3 separate regions of the Homo sapiens genome follow, and all the other regions are linked to region 2. The links come from fine-mapping of genetic effects on gene expression. A gene starts in region 2. Each other region holds a variant in brackets. All regions are shown on one strand. Distances are between the middles of the regions. Region 1 holds the start of MYH9 (myosin heavy chain 9). Region 2 holds the start of TXN2 (thioredoxin 2). Region 3 overlaps EIF3D (eukaryotic translation initiation factor 3 subunit D).

What was found.
Region 1: its variant is fine-mapped to the expression of TXN2 in whole blood (TOPMed, PIP 0.91).
Region 3: its variant is fine-mapped to the expression of TXN2 in whole blood (INTERVAL, PIP 0.99).

The regions. Positions count from the first base shown.
Region 1 is chr22:36,383,970-36,388,133 of GRCh38, forward strand. It overlaps MYH9 (myosin heavy chain 9), which reads right to left and starts at 3,998. Exons shown (of 41, transcript NM_002473.6): 1 at 3,838-3,998. RefSeq lists enhancers at 1,157-1,870, 1,642-1,831, 1,871-2,584, 2,342-2,391, 4,015-4,164 and silencers at 3,022-3,251, 3,532-3,611, 3,642-4,164. The variant T/C (reference allele first, on the strand shown) is at 2,187.
Region 2 is chr22:36,479,982-36,484,145 of GRCh38, forward strand. It overlaps TXN2 (thioredoxin 2), which reads right to left and starts at 1,659. Exons shown (of 4, transcript NM_012473.4): 1 at 1,583-1,659; 2 at 594-856. The coding sequence starts at 856. RefSeq lists an enhancer at 2,089-3,035.
Region 3 is chr22:36,507,952-36,512,115 of GRCh38, forward strand. It overlaps EIF3D (eukaryotic translation initiation factor 3 subunit D), which reads right to left. Exons shown (of 15, transcript NM_003753.4): 14 at 3,552-3,835; 15 at 2,904-3,049. The coding sequence ends at 3,036. Among named protein-coding and RNA genes, the nearest start is that of FOXRED2, 3.0 kb to the left of the region's middle. RefSeq lists an enhancer at 3,393-3,472. The variant G/A (reference allele first, on the strand shown) is at 1,778.

The sequences.
Region 1 (4,164 bases), 96 kb before region 2:
AAAAAAGTGGGCGAGGGGGTGCTGGGTGTGGTGGCTCACGCCTGTAATCCTAGCACTCTGGGAGGTCGAGGCCGGTGGATCGCTTGAGGTCAGAAGTTCCAGACCAGCGTGGTCAACATGGCAAAATCCCATCTCTACTAAAAATACAAAAATTAGCCAAGTATGGTGGCAGGCACCTGTAATCCCAGCTACTCGGGAGACTGAGGCAGAAGAATCGCTTAAACCTTGGGGGCAGAGGTTGCAGTGAGCTGAGATTGTGCCACTGCACTCTAGCCTGGGCGAGAGTGAGACTCATCTCAAAAAACAAACAAACAAACAAAAACCATATATGAGCCGGGCACGGTGGCTCACACCTGTAATCTCAGCACTGTGGGAGGCCGAGATGGGCAGATCACCTGAGGTCAGGAGTTCGAGATCAGCCTGGCCAACATGGTGAAACCTCATCTCAACTACAGATATAAAAACTAGTGGGGTGTGGTGGTGGGCACCTGTAATCCCAGCTACTCGGGAGGCTGAGGCAGGAGAATTGCTTGAACCCAGGAGGAAGAGGTTGCAGCAAGCTGAGGTCACGCCATTGCACTCTAGCCTGGGCGACAGAGCAAGACTCTGTCTCAAAAAAAAAAAAAAAAAAAAAAAAAAAAAATATATATATATATATATATATATATATATATATATATATACAGCCACTACATATTAGGCCATGTACATACCTTATTTCTTTCAGTTCATGCATCTAACCCCACAGGGTAGGATCTTGATTCCCATATTATACATAAGCACATCCAAGCTGTGAGGCTATGTGACTTGCCTAAGGTCACAAAGCTATTAAGTAGCATGGTCAGGATTTGAACTCGGCCTGTTTCCAAAGCTCACGTTCTTTCCACTACCCCACTCTTCCCAGCTCTAAGAGTGGGATTCAGTAAGCCACAGCAGCAGCACTGCCAGGGCTCCATTCTTTTGTCAGCAGAGGACTCCAGCCCAGGGTCTCAGCACACCAAGGGTTAAGGCTGAGAGGCAGTGACTCTCTGGGGCTGCACAAAGGGAAATGCACTTCCTGCCCCAGCAGGCAGAGATGCTGTTTTATGCTCAGTAAATTAGGACGTTTGTTTAATTACGACGACACACAGATTTTGTTATTCTAAATATTTTTGGAACATGATGCTTGGGAGGAAGCTGTCAAGGCACGGGTTTTTTTTTTTCTCTCTCTCTCTTTTTCCTTTGCTTTGGGTTTCTCTTTCTCCCCCTCCAAGAGAAGGGTAGGGCCAGGCTCAGAGGAAAACAACAGCCAACCCCTCCTCTCCTTTTGAAATAAAGATGTCAAGCTGGTAAGGGCTGTCTTAAGTACTTTATTGAAGAATTAGCTAGAAGAGGAAGTAAAGGAAGAACAGCCAGCCTGGTTTCTAGCAATACCCTACCAGGCTACACAACAATGCTGCATTTTTTTAGTGTGTTTTTCTTCTTTTAAAGAGCTAACAGATCCTTGTTTTGTTTTTTCTGGAGCAAGAGCGGGCAAAAGGCAGGCTGTGATTAACATGCGTCCTTCATCCTACGAGAGAGAAGTTGTCCCATCTCCAACCCCTTAGGTTAAAAAGTTTAAAAATAAAAGCAAGAAAGCCAGGGCCCTCCCTCTCCTCTACCCTCCTGAACCTTTCAGATGAACAGCCTCACCGAATGCTGCCCTTCTCTCCGGGGCTGGGGAGCTCCCCAGAGCCTGCCAATGCCGGCTCTCCAGACACCTGGCTCTGCCCACCTGCGCTGCCAGGGTTTGCTGAGTGTGGAGACTGAAGTTCTTTGGTGTCACCCCACAGTCATCCAGAGCGCAGTGGCTCTCAAATTACACTGAGCAATCTCTCCATGTTTTTAATTACCCCCCAATTATCCACTAAGTGGCTCCTCACTTTCCAACACCGCATGCTTGCCTCAGTTTGCCAAACCTGCAATGTGCTTCTCCCTTGTAGCAGCCTCCTCCTTGCCCAAGAGAAGTGGCCCCTCTCAGCCTTGAAATTCCTGAGTCCTTTGTCTATGGCATACTTGGGACACACATCACAGGCTGCCTTTGTATTTCACTGGTTCTGCCACTTTCCCCTTGAGGACTGTAAACTCCCCAAGGGCAGAGGCAGGGCCCCGGGGATTTCACAGGGCAGTCTGGCTCCCTTCTCCCAATCCCCATGACTCACAGTACC[T/C]TTCCGGGGTCCCTGTCATCTCTACCTCACGTTAGACTCATCTACAGATTTGTCTCAGTTCTCCCCTAAGTGCCCATGGGCACGGGCCAGGTCTTACTCAACCTCCCACCCCCCCACCACCTGGCAGAGTCCCTGGCACAGAGAGGGCAGTTAAATATTTGCTCAATTACACATCTGTGTCCCCTTCCCCCACACATAGCAGCCTTGTATATAAACTGACTATTATTAATTGAGTGATTGTCTCAAAAGGCCTCCCTCCTTACCAAAAAGGGACTCCTAAGCCATCAGGTGAGCCAAACACTGGCCCAGACAGTGTAGTTAGAATGGCCACAGTGCTGCGCTGCACGGAGAAGGAGCTAAGGCTCTCTTCCCTTTCCACGGTTACTCATCAGTCACTTTGAAATCCTGTTAAACCCAGAAAAGGGCGCAGTGAACCGAGAAGTGGCTGGGCCTCTCAACTGCCCGGTGGAGACAGCCGCCTGCCTCTACGACCTGGGACTTCCCAAGGAGTCTTCTCTCCACACCGGCTGGGTGGGGCCGTGCGCTCACCCTGCCCCCCACCACAGGACAGCCGGCAAGCTAGTGCTGGGGGTGCTGAGTCTCAGTTTGAAACAGCGGGGCTTCCCTGGAGAATGAGGGTGCCGCAGTCCTGTCTCCTGTGCGTGGCCCCAGAACAGGATGGGGTGAGGACCCCAGCACAGGGAAGCGGGTGCGTGGAGTGGAGAATAGAAAACTCCGATTTGGCTCAAACAGGAAAGATGCAATCGCCCAGGCCTGCTCGTAACGGCAGAGCTAGCTGCCCCCGCACCCCGCCCAGACGGGATGGCCCCTGGGTGCGGTGGAATCAGGTGCACGCCTGGGCGGCCCCGACGGCTGCTGCATTCCGGGCCTCCCTCCCCCGAGGATCAGAAGTCGGAGGTCGAGGGCTGGAGCAGGGACTGGGGGTGGCCCTTCCTGTCTCGCGCCCGGGTCCCCGCCGGGTCCCCCTTGTCCGGGCAGCCGCCGCACCTCCCCCGGGCCCTCCCCGACCAGTCCGACGGCAGCGGGCGAATGAGGAAGTCGGCCGCGGAGGCGGAAACCGGGCCGGGTGCAAGGTCTGCAGCGGGACGGTCCGACTCTGACTCAGGAGGACGCCCTGACAGCTGCCAAACGGTGCCCGCTGCCCGTTACCTCCGTGCCTCAGACGCCAGAAACTTCCACGGGAGCGGCTGCCCCGGGCTCCCAACCCGTGAGGCTGCGTCCCAGGGGCCGCGGCTCCCGGAAGGGGTTAAAAAGTTTGCCCGAGTCGGGCCTGGGCGAGGCGAGGGCGGGGCGCGTGCCCCAGCGGCTGGGGGAGGTCGGCTCCAGTGCCCAGTCCTGAGACCGCGCCGGGGGACACGGGGGGCGCCGGGGAGCGCCGGGTCCCGAGGCCGCCCCTGCACCCCTAGGCCTCGCTGCTGCCGGCGCCCTCCCCGAGCGCCCGCGTGGGGGTCCCGGTCCCCCTGGGAAGGATGCGGTGCCGGGCCCTGAGCCGCCGGCGTTCGCCCCCGCCCGCGCGGGTGGCGGGCCGCACTGAGCCCAAGAACCACCAGTCGGCCTGGCGGCAGCGCGTCTCGCCCCCGCCCGCCCGCCGCCGCCTGCCCGGGGCGGGACCGCGGTGGGGCTCGCTCACCTGAACCTGGATCTGCCCCGGGAACAGGCGCTGCTTCTCCCGAGAGGACTTTCTCGAGCGCTCGGGCGGCGGCCGGGTGGGGCGAGCGCACGAGGCGGGAGCTGCAGCAGGTCAGCCTTGCTTAGCCTTCCGTGCCCTGCCCAGGAACCGCGGTGATCTGCGCGCCTCACCGCACCCAGCTCGGCTCCTCGCCGCCTTCCCGCCCCGCCCTCGGAGCCGCGGGACCATTCCCAGCCGGGAGCCGGCTCCGGGGCGGAGCCTGGGGCACAATCCCGCCCCCTTCCTGCTACACCCACTGCAGGCCGCGCCTGGCCTTGATGGGCAGAC
Region 2 (4,164 bases):
CAAGTGATTCTCCTGCCTCAGCCTCCCGAGTAGCTGGGATTACAGGCACACACCACCACGCCTAGCTAATTTTGTATTTTTAATAGAGACAGGGTATCACCATGTTGGCCAGGCTGGTCTTGAACTCCTGACCTCAGGTGATCTGCCCGCCTTGGCCTCCCAAAGTGCTGGGATTACAGGCATGAGCCACCGCACCCGGCCGACACTGATAACTTTTTGCCAGCCCTTCTTGCGGTTTTCATGGCAGGATGTTAACATCAGCTTATCTGCAGGGCCAGGAACTGGTATACACCAAAAGCAAGGTGACAGTCATATTTTTCCAACTCTGGTCCATGCTAAAGATGACGCTGAGCTTTCTGGGGATTGAGAAACAGAACATGTGTTTCCCAGCACTAACAGTCAGCTTTGCAGACTGTTCACTTGTCTGTCTTCCACCAGACTGCATTCCCCTTGAGGGCAGGGACTGGGCCTGACCAGTCTGTATATTGAGTCTACATATGAGCAGCATAGAACATGGCCGTGGGACACAGCAGGCATTCAATAAATACTTGAACAAGTAGGACCCTAGTCTTCTGTGGACCCCCAATACTCACTGTGCGTGGAAATCCACAACCACTGGTGTCTCACTGTTGACCACTCGGTCTTGAAAGTCAGGTCCATCCTGGATATTAAAGGTTGTCAAGGAGATCCTCGTGGTGTATATTGTCCGGGCTGGGTTGGGTGTTACAGTCAGGCCACCAGGACTGCATTGTGGGGTCTGCAGGGCTCTGGAAGTGAGGGGTGGCCACTGACCCTGAGAGGGCTTCCTGGAGATGACAGAGGCCAGGAACCTCCTCAGAAGAAGTCGCTGAGCCATCTGTGAGGGAAAGAGGCAGAAGAACTGGGGCACACAAAAGGAAGTCGACACACTAGAAAAAGATTTGGGGAGTACTCAGGGCTCAGGAAGAGGCAGAGTTGGAAGCAAAATGCAAGGAAATCATATGTAAGATTTGTAGCGTGGAAGTGAGGAAGCAATGAGAATCAAAGGGAAGGAACAGCTAGGCAAACCAGAAGGACAGGAAAACTGGCTTCACAACCAAAAAGAAATCGGGATTTAGATTATAACGGAAGAATGGGAGGAAGAAACCAACAGATTTAATAATGTATGTAAGGACCAAGTACCTTACACACATTATTGGTCTTCCTACAGCAACTTCCAGGAAGTTGCTATTGTACTGCCCACACTGCGAGTAAGGGAAGGAATACGAGGCTCAAGTAAGTTAAGTGACATGCCCAAAGTAACCCCGCTATTAAATGACAGCCAACACTGGAACCCAGGGTCGTCTGAAAAGATGAAACGCAACAATTCAAGGAGGAACTAAGAGTGTGAGAGGAACCAAAAACGAAGAGACATGTACTGGAGGGAACCAATAAAGAAGGGACATGTGTGGAGGGAACTGGGAAAAATCGGACATCACCAGGGACCCTGGCTCTCCGGCGAGCTAGATCCCCCCGCCCGCCCGGCCGCCAGCCTGCGCAGGAACGCGCTCGCGGCATGCCTCAGCCGCGACACCACCTCGAGCCACCCCCACAGGGCTCCTACCTCCCTGCAATGCGAGCGGAGGGATGCACAGCCTAGCCCTCCCTGCCTGTCAAGGGCACGCCTGTCGTCACTTCCTCGGGGGGGGACGTACATAACGTCACTTCCGGGTACAGGCAGGCGGAAGAGCGTCCCTCTCCAATTTTTTTTTTTTTTTTTTTTTTTTTTGAGCCAGAGTCTCGCTCTGTTGCCAGGCTGGGGTGCAGTGGCGCGATCTCGGCTCACTGCAACCTCCGCCTTCCGGGTTCAAGCGATTCTCCTGCCTCAGCCTCCCGACTAGAGGCGCGCGCCACCACGCCCAGCTAATTTTTTTATTTTTAGTAGAGACGGGGTTTCACCACGTTGGCCAGGACGGTCTCGATCTTTTGACCTCGTGATCCGCCCGCCTCGGCTTCTCAGAGGGTTGTGATTACGGGCGTGAGCCACAGCGCCCATCTGTCCCTCTCCAATTTGAGGGGCGTCTGGGATTTTCCGCCAATGGGAATGGCGGGCTGAGGCACAGTTGAAGGGGCGGGGCCTCAGCTACGGACCGGAAGCAATGGGCAGGCCGTCGGGGAACGGATTGGAAGAGGCGGGCGGGCCCTGGTCTGGGCGAAGGCGGGGGCGGGGCGGGGCGGAAACGGAAGGGGTGGGCGGGCCCTAGAGGAGGGACCGGAAGAGGAGGTGATGGAGCAGGGGTAGCAATGGAGGGTACTTAAGGGAGAAAAGGCAGTTGAGAAGTCCCCGTGGTTTTGGATTTTGCAAACTCTTGTTGCTTTATTTTATTTACATATATTTATTTATTAATGACAGAGTCTCGCTCTGTCTCCCAGGCTACAGTGCAGTGGCGTGATCTCCGCTCACTGCAACATCCAAATCCCGGGTTCAAGTGATTTTCCTGCCTCAGCCTCCCAGGTAGCTGGGATTACAGGCGCGCGCCACCACGCCGGGCTGATTTTTGTATTTTTAGTAGAGACGGAGTTTCGCCATGTTGGCCAGGCTGGTCTGGAACTCCTGAGCTCAAGTGATCCGCCCGCTTCAGCCTCCCAAAGTGCTGGGATTACAGGCGTGAGCCACCTTGCCTGGCCTCCTGTTTATAACTGGCGCTGTCCACTTCCTACAGATGTTGACAGGTTCTGTTTCTCCATTTAATATGTAAAGCTAAGCTCCTCAAAGGCATGATGCCCTTTATATGTAAAAGAACTCAACCGGGAGTTTAGGGGCCATCCTTTAAGTGGCCCTCGTCTGTGTCCGCCTAAAGGAAAACAAATGAAAACTGAGGCGAGCCTAATTTAAGCAGGGAGTTTTTTTGGGTCAAGTTCGAAGACTGCAACTCGGAGCAGAGATTCAAGTTGTCCTGAATATACACTCGGATTAGCAGCAGCTGAAAGAGCGTTTTTAAAAGAACAGGCAGTTTCCAAATTGTTGATCAAAGTTTTTTTTTTTTTTTTTTTTTTTTTTGAGACAGAGTCTCGCTCTTGTTGCCCAGGCTGGAGTGCAGTGGCGCGATCTCGGCTCACTGCAACCTCTGCCTCCTGGGTTCAAGGGATTCTTCTCCCTCTGCCTCCCCAGTAGCTGGGACTACAGGCGTGCCTCACCACGCCTAGCTAATTTTTATATTTTTAGTAGAGACGGAGTTTCACCATGTTGGCTAGGATGGTCTCGATCTATTGACCTCATGATCTGCCCACCTGGGCCTCCCAAAGTGCTGGAATTACAGGCGTGAGCCACTGCACCCAGCCTTTTTTTTTTTTTTTTTGAGACGGAGTCTTGCTCTGTAGCTAGGCTGGAGTGCAGTGGCATGATCTTGGCTCACCGCAACCTCCACCTCCAGGGTTCAAGGGATTCTCCTGCCTCAGCCCCCCAAGTACTTGGGATTACAGGCGAGCACCACCACACCTGGCTAATTTTTTATATTTTTGGTACAGAAATTTTATATTTCACCATGTTGGCCAGGCTGGTCTCGAACTCCTGACCTTAAGTTATCGCTCGCCTCGGCTTCCCAAAGTGCTGGGATAACAGGCGTGAGCCACCGCGCCTGGCCGCCCTGCCCATTTTTGTATCGGTTTTCTGTGTCTCTAGCACTTTCTTTTCCACAGCCACCTATCAATCCTATTCAGCACTTCCACAGTATTTTCTAGAGAGCCAATTTTCCTGCCTAATTCACATTCTGAATTTCACAGGCGGACCAGTCCTGTTTGTCCTTATGCCATAGTCACTTCACCCTGATCGGCCTCAGGCTTCTCATCTGAGCAATGGGAAGAATGCCTTTCTCATAGCTGGGCTGAGGGTTGCAGTAGAGACAGAATCCACATCATTGCTGCCTGATGACTCCTGCAGGGAAAGCCTGAGAGACACAGAGAAGGCTGAGCTCTCGGCGCGCTACAAAAGGGCTCTCAGCTACATGGTGGCTCCTCTGTCCAGCTAGAGCTGAGCTGGCCTGGGTCTGGCTTAGTCACAAGCAGGCTCAGGGCACAGCTGAGAGGCAAAGGGAAGGAAGCCAGGACTGGCAGCCTGGGCTAAGGGTAAAACTTCTACCTCCTACCAATATTTATTGCAGTGTTTTTCAAACTGCAGGATATGGACGTCAGTGGGTTTGCAAAATT
Region 3 (4,164 bases), 28 kb after region 2:
ATGTCATTTACTTTTTCTTTTTTTTTTTTTTTTGAGATGGAGTCTCACTCTGTCGCCCAGGCTGGAGTGCAGTGGCGTGATCTCGGCTCACTGCAAGCTCCACCTCCCAGGTTCACGCCATTTTTCTGCCCCAGCCTCCCTAGTAGCTGGGACTACAGGTGCCCGCCACCACACCCGGCTAATTTTTTGTATTTTTAGTAGAGACAGGGTTTCACTGTGTTAGCCAGGATGGTCTCGATCTCCTGACCTCGTGATCCGCCCGCCTCGGCCTCCCAAAGTGCTGGGATTACAGGCGTGAGCCACCGCGCCTGGCCGAATGTCATTTACTTTCTTCAGTCTGTGTCAACATCAGAGAAAAGCTCCCTCAGAGCAGAAATTGTCCAGTATCTGACATACGGAAGTTTAAGCATTTGTTGAATAAGCATTGCAACCAGAGAGGTCAGGCAGAATACTTTGCCAAAAATAAAGTAGGGATGTCTTATTTCTTCTTTTTGAGACAGAGTCTCACTGTCACCCAGGCTGGAGTGCAGTGACACAATCATGGCTCACTGCAGCCCTGACCTTCCAGGCTCAAGCGATCCTGCTTCAGCCTCCCAAAGTGCTAGGGATTACAAGTGTGTGCCATGGCCCCTGGCCAATTTTTCAAAAAAATTTTTGGGGGCATATGTGTATATATTTATGGGGCATATGAGATGTTTTGATAGTCATGCAATTTGGGGATGTCTGTTTCTTAGTGGTTGTGAAGATTATGAGAATGGGTGCTGGCAAACAAGTTCCTAAAATAATTGCTGGTCTTATGTGGTGAATACAGTAGTGGGAAATTAAACAGAATTCGTCAAGTATGGTAGGGCCCTACGAGTAGGCTGAACCTAGATTGTAAGCAACAGGATGCTACTGGGAGTTTCTGAATGTAGGATTACTGCAGCAGTCAACTTGGTAGCCCCATGCAGGACAGATAAAAGCAGTGGACAGCTACTCGGGAGGCTGAGGCAGGAGAATGGCGTGAACCCAGGAGGCGGAGCTTACAGTGCCTGAGATTGCGCCACTGCACTCCAGCCTGGGCAACAGAGCAAGACTCCGTCTCAAAAAAAAAAAAAAAAAAAAAAAAGGCAGTGGAAACTGATGCAAAGTATTTTCAGGGAATGAGCTTGAGTCACTTCCACTTGCTTCTGTTAATCCTGTTGGACAGGGCCATGGTTTGCAAGAGGCAATTTGGTGAATACTGGTCCAACCTGGAAACCCCCGGCACTAGTCACACCACTTTAATCTGTTTTTTAACACTCTGTATTCACATTGAAAACTCCCCAAGTACACTTTTTCTCTCCACTGCTTCTAACACAGTTCAAGAAACCTTTTGCTTGCTGAGGTTCGATTCATTAAAATTAATTTTGTGTTTTTTCAAGCTACTTTAAAAAAAAAACCTGTAACTTTAGAAATGCTGAGCTTTTTTTGAGAGTCTCTGTAATCCAAATTGGAGTGCAGTGGTGTGATCTCAGTTCACTGCAACCTCCGCCTCCTGGGTTCGAGTGAATCTCCAGCCTCAGCCTCCCAAGTAGCTGGAATTACAGGCGTGTGCCACCATGCCTGGCTGTTTTGTATTTTTAGTAGAGACGGGGTTTTGCTATGTTGCTCAGGCTGGTTTTGAACTCCTGACCTCAAGTGATCCACCCACCTCGGCCTCCCAAAGTGCTGGGATTACAGGCATGAGCCACTGCACCTGGCCTTTTTTTTTTTGATAAAGGGTCTCCTTCTGTCACTTAGGCTGGAGTGCAGTGGT[G/A]TGATCATAGCTCACTGCAGCCTTGAACTCCTGGGCTCAAGCAATCCTCCCACCTCAGCCTCCTGAGTAGCTGGGACCACAGGTGGAAGCATCATGACTGGCTAATAATTTATTTTTTTGCAGAGACAGGCCCTGGTCTCCCTGTGTTGCCCAGGCTGGTCTCAAACTTCTAGGCTAAAGTGATCCTTCTGCCTCAGCCTCTCAAAGTGTTGGGATTAGAGGTTTGAGCCACCATGCCTGTTTCCTCACCTCTACAATGGTACTACTCCTGCCAGCATCACAGTTCTGTATGAGGCTTAGATACTACAGAAAGCTCAGCATTAATACCTGGCAGGGTAATTACTCCATCAAGTGTCCAGAACAGAACAGTGTCCACTTACATAGTTTACATAGCCTCGGCTGGGTGCGGTGGCTCACGCCTGTAATCTCAGCACTTTGGGAGGCCAAGGCGGGTAGATCACCTGAGGTCAGGAGTTCGAGACCATCCTGACCCATATGGCGAAACCCCGTCTCTACTAAAAATACAAAAATTAGCCAGGCATGGTGGTGCATGCCTGTAATCCCAGCTACTGGGGGGCTGAGGCAGGAGGATCGCTTGAACCTGGGAGGTGGAGGTTGCAGTGAGCCGAGATCATGCTACTGCACTCCAGCCTGGGCAACAAAGTGAGATTCCGTCTCAAAAAAAAAAAAAAAAAAAAAAAAAGTTTACATATCCTCAACATGCAGAGCTCTTATGACACAATGCTTTGTAGGGACAGGCCTGAGTGTCACCAGCCCAAGCCAAGCTTAAAAACAATTCATAAACCATTACACAATCACCCAGTGGGACATCCATCAAGCTCTCTGTGGCAGCCTCCCTCAGGCGCAGCAGCCCCACCTCACCCACACCCTGCTTCACGCTGTACTAGTGCTCTGCACTCCAGCTCCTCACAGTGAACTCTCCAAAAGCAACAGGTGGCCCTTCACACAGCCAGCAGGCACTCATGCTTGTGGAAATGGACTTCTTATAACAAATGAGGACACCCAGATTCTGAATTCCACATAGAAATTGCTGAATCTCATCCCCACTCTGTCAGGAATCTTTGAAGAAACGACTGTAAATCGTTAATGCAGGCAGACGATGAGGGAAAGACTAAACAGATATATATTTTATTTCATCTGCTAAATGTCAGAGAGCAAGTTAGACACACATTCCACTAAGCATCAAAGGCCCTCGTAGTCTCGGTGGAAGGACAAACTCCAGCTCCACATCACTGGTTTAAGTTTCTTCCTCTGAAAGACACAAAAAATGTAAGAGAAATGAGCCAGGTTGTGTGATATGATGTTCACTTTCCTTTCTGAACCTCTGCTGGACTGTGCGTGAGTTTTCAACACTTCCATTCCGAAGTTAAGCCTTTCAGATGCTCACAGGGCTGGGCAGGTATTTCCTTCAGTCACCAGCTGGTGGAGCAGGAGAGACAACTTTCAGGCTATTTAACCCGGAGCGGAGCTTTTCCCTCTAGACCACCGGCTTCAATCTGGGACTTCCCTCATCTTCCTCTACCTCTGCCACAGTCCAGCCGCTTCTCTAAAACACCGCTATCCTCCCCAACCACTTGATGTGATCTAAAGGCTCTAGAAGAAGCTCTTGGAGCCAAAGTGAATGCTTCTTCATACTTAAGTCTCAGGGAATTCTCGAAGTTTTATCAAGGTTAAAGATCACAATGGCTACAGAGCTTGCTCCCGTGCTAGCCCACAGATCACTCTAGACCTCAGAAAGTGGGCTGCTACACACCTTCTTCTTCCTCTTCTTCCTCCTCCTCTTCCTCCTCATCTTCATCAGAGCTGAAGGTGCCATCAGGGAGGCTGTAGACACGGATGACCTGCTTGTTGGGGTCCTTGAGGATGAGGTATTTGCCCTCCTCCAGCTTCATGCAGATGTCAATGACGCAGCGTAAAATGCCCCAGGCATTCTCCACGCTCAGGTTGATCTGGCTGGCAAACTCATTAGGCTTGAACTGCTGGGTGCCTAGGATGACGTGGCGTGAGGAGTCTTTCACGTGGTACCGAGACACATAACTAACAGGGGAAGGGATATCAGTGGTCAGAGCAGGGCAGCACAGAGACAGCAACACTTGGGATCAAATGTCAATTAAATGGTGATACCTGGTCCACTGCTATTTTTTCTTTTTTTTTTTTTTGAGACGGAGTCTGGCTCTGTTGCCCAGGCTGGAGTGCAGTGGCGCCATCTTGGCTCACTGCAAGCTCCGCCTCCCGGGTTCACACCATTCTCCTGCCTCAGCCCCCTGAGTAGCTGGGGCTACAGGCGCCCGCCACTACGCCCGGCTAATTTTTTGTATTTTTAGTTGAGACAGGGTTTCATCGTGTTAGCCAGGATGGTCTTGATC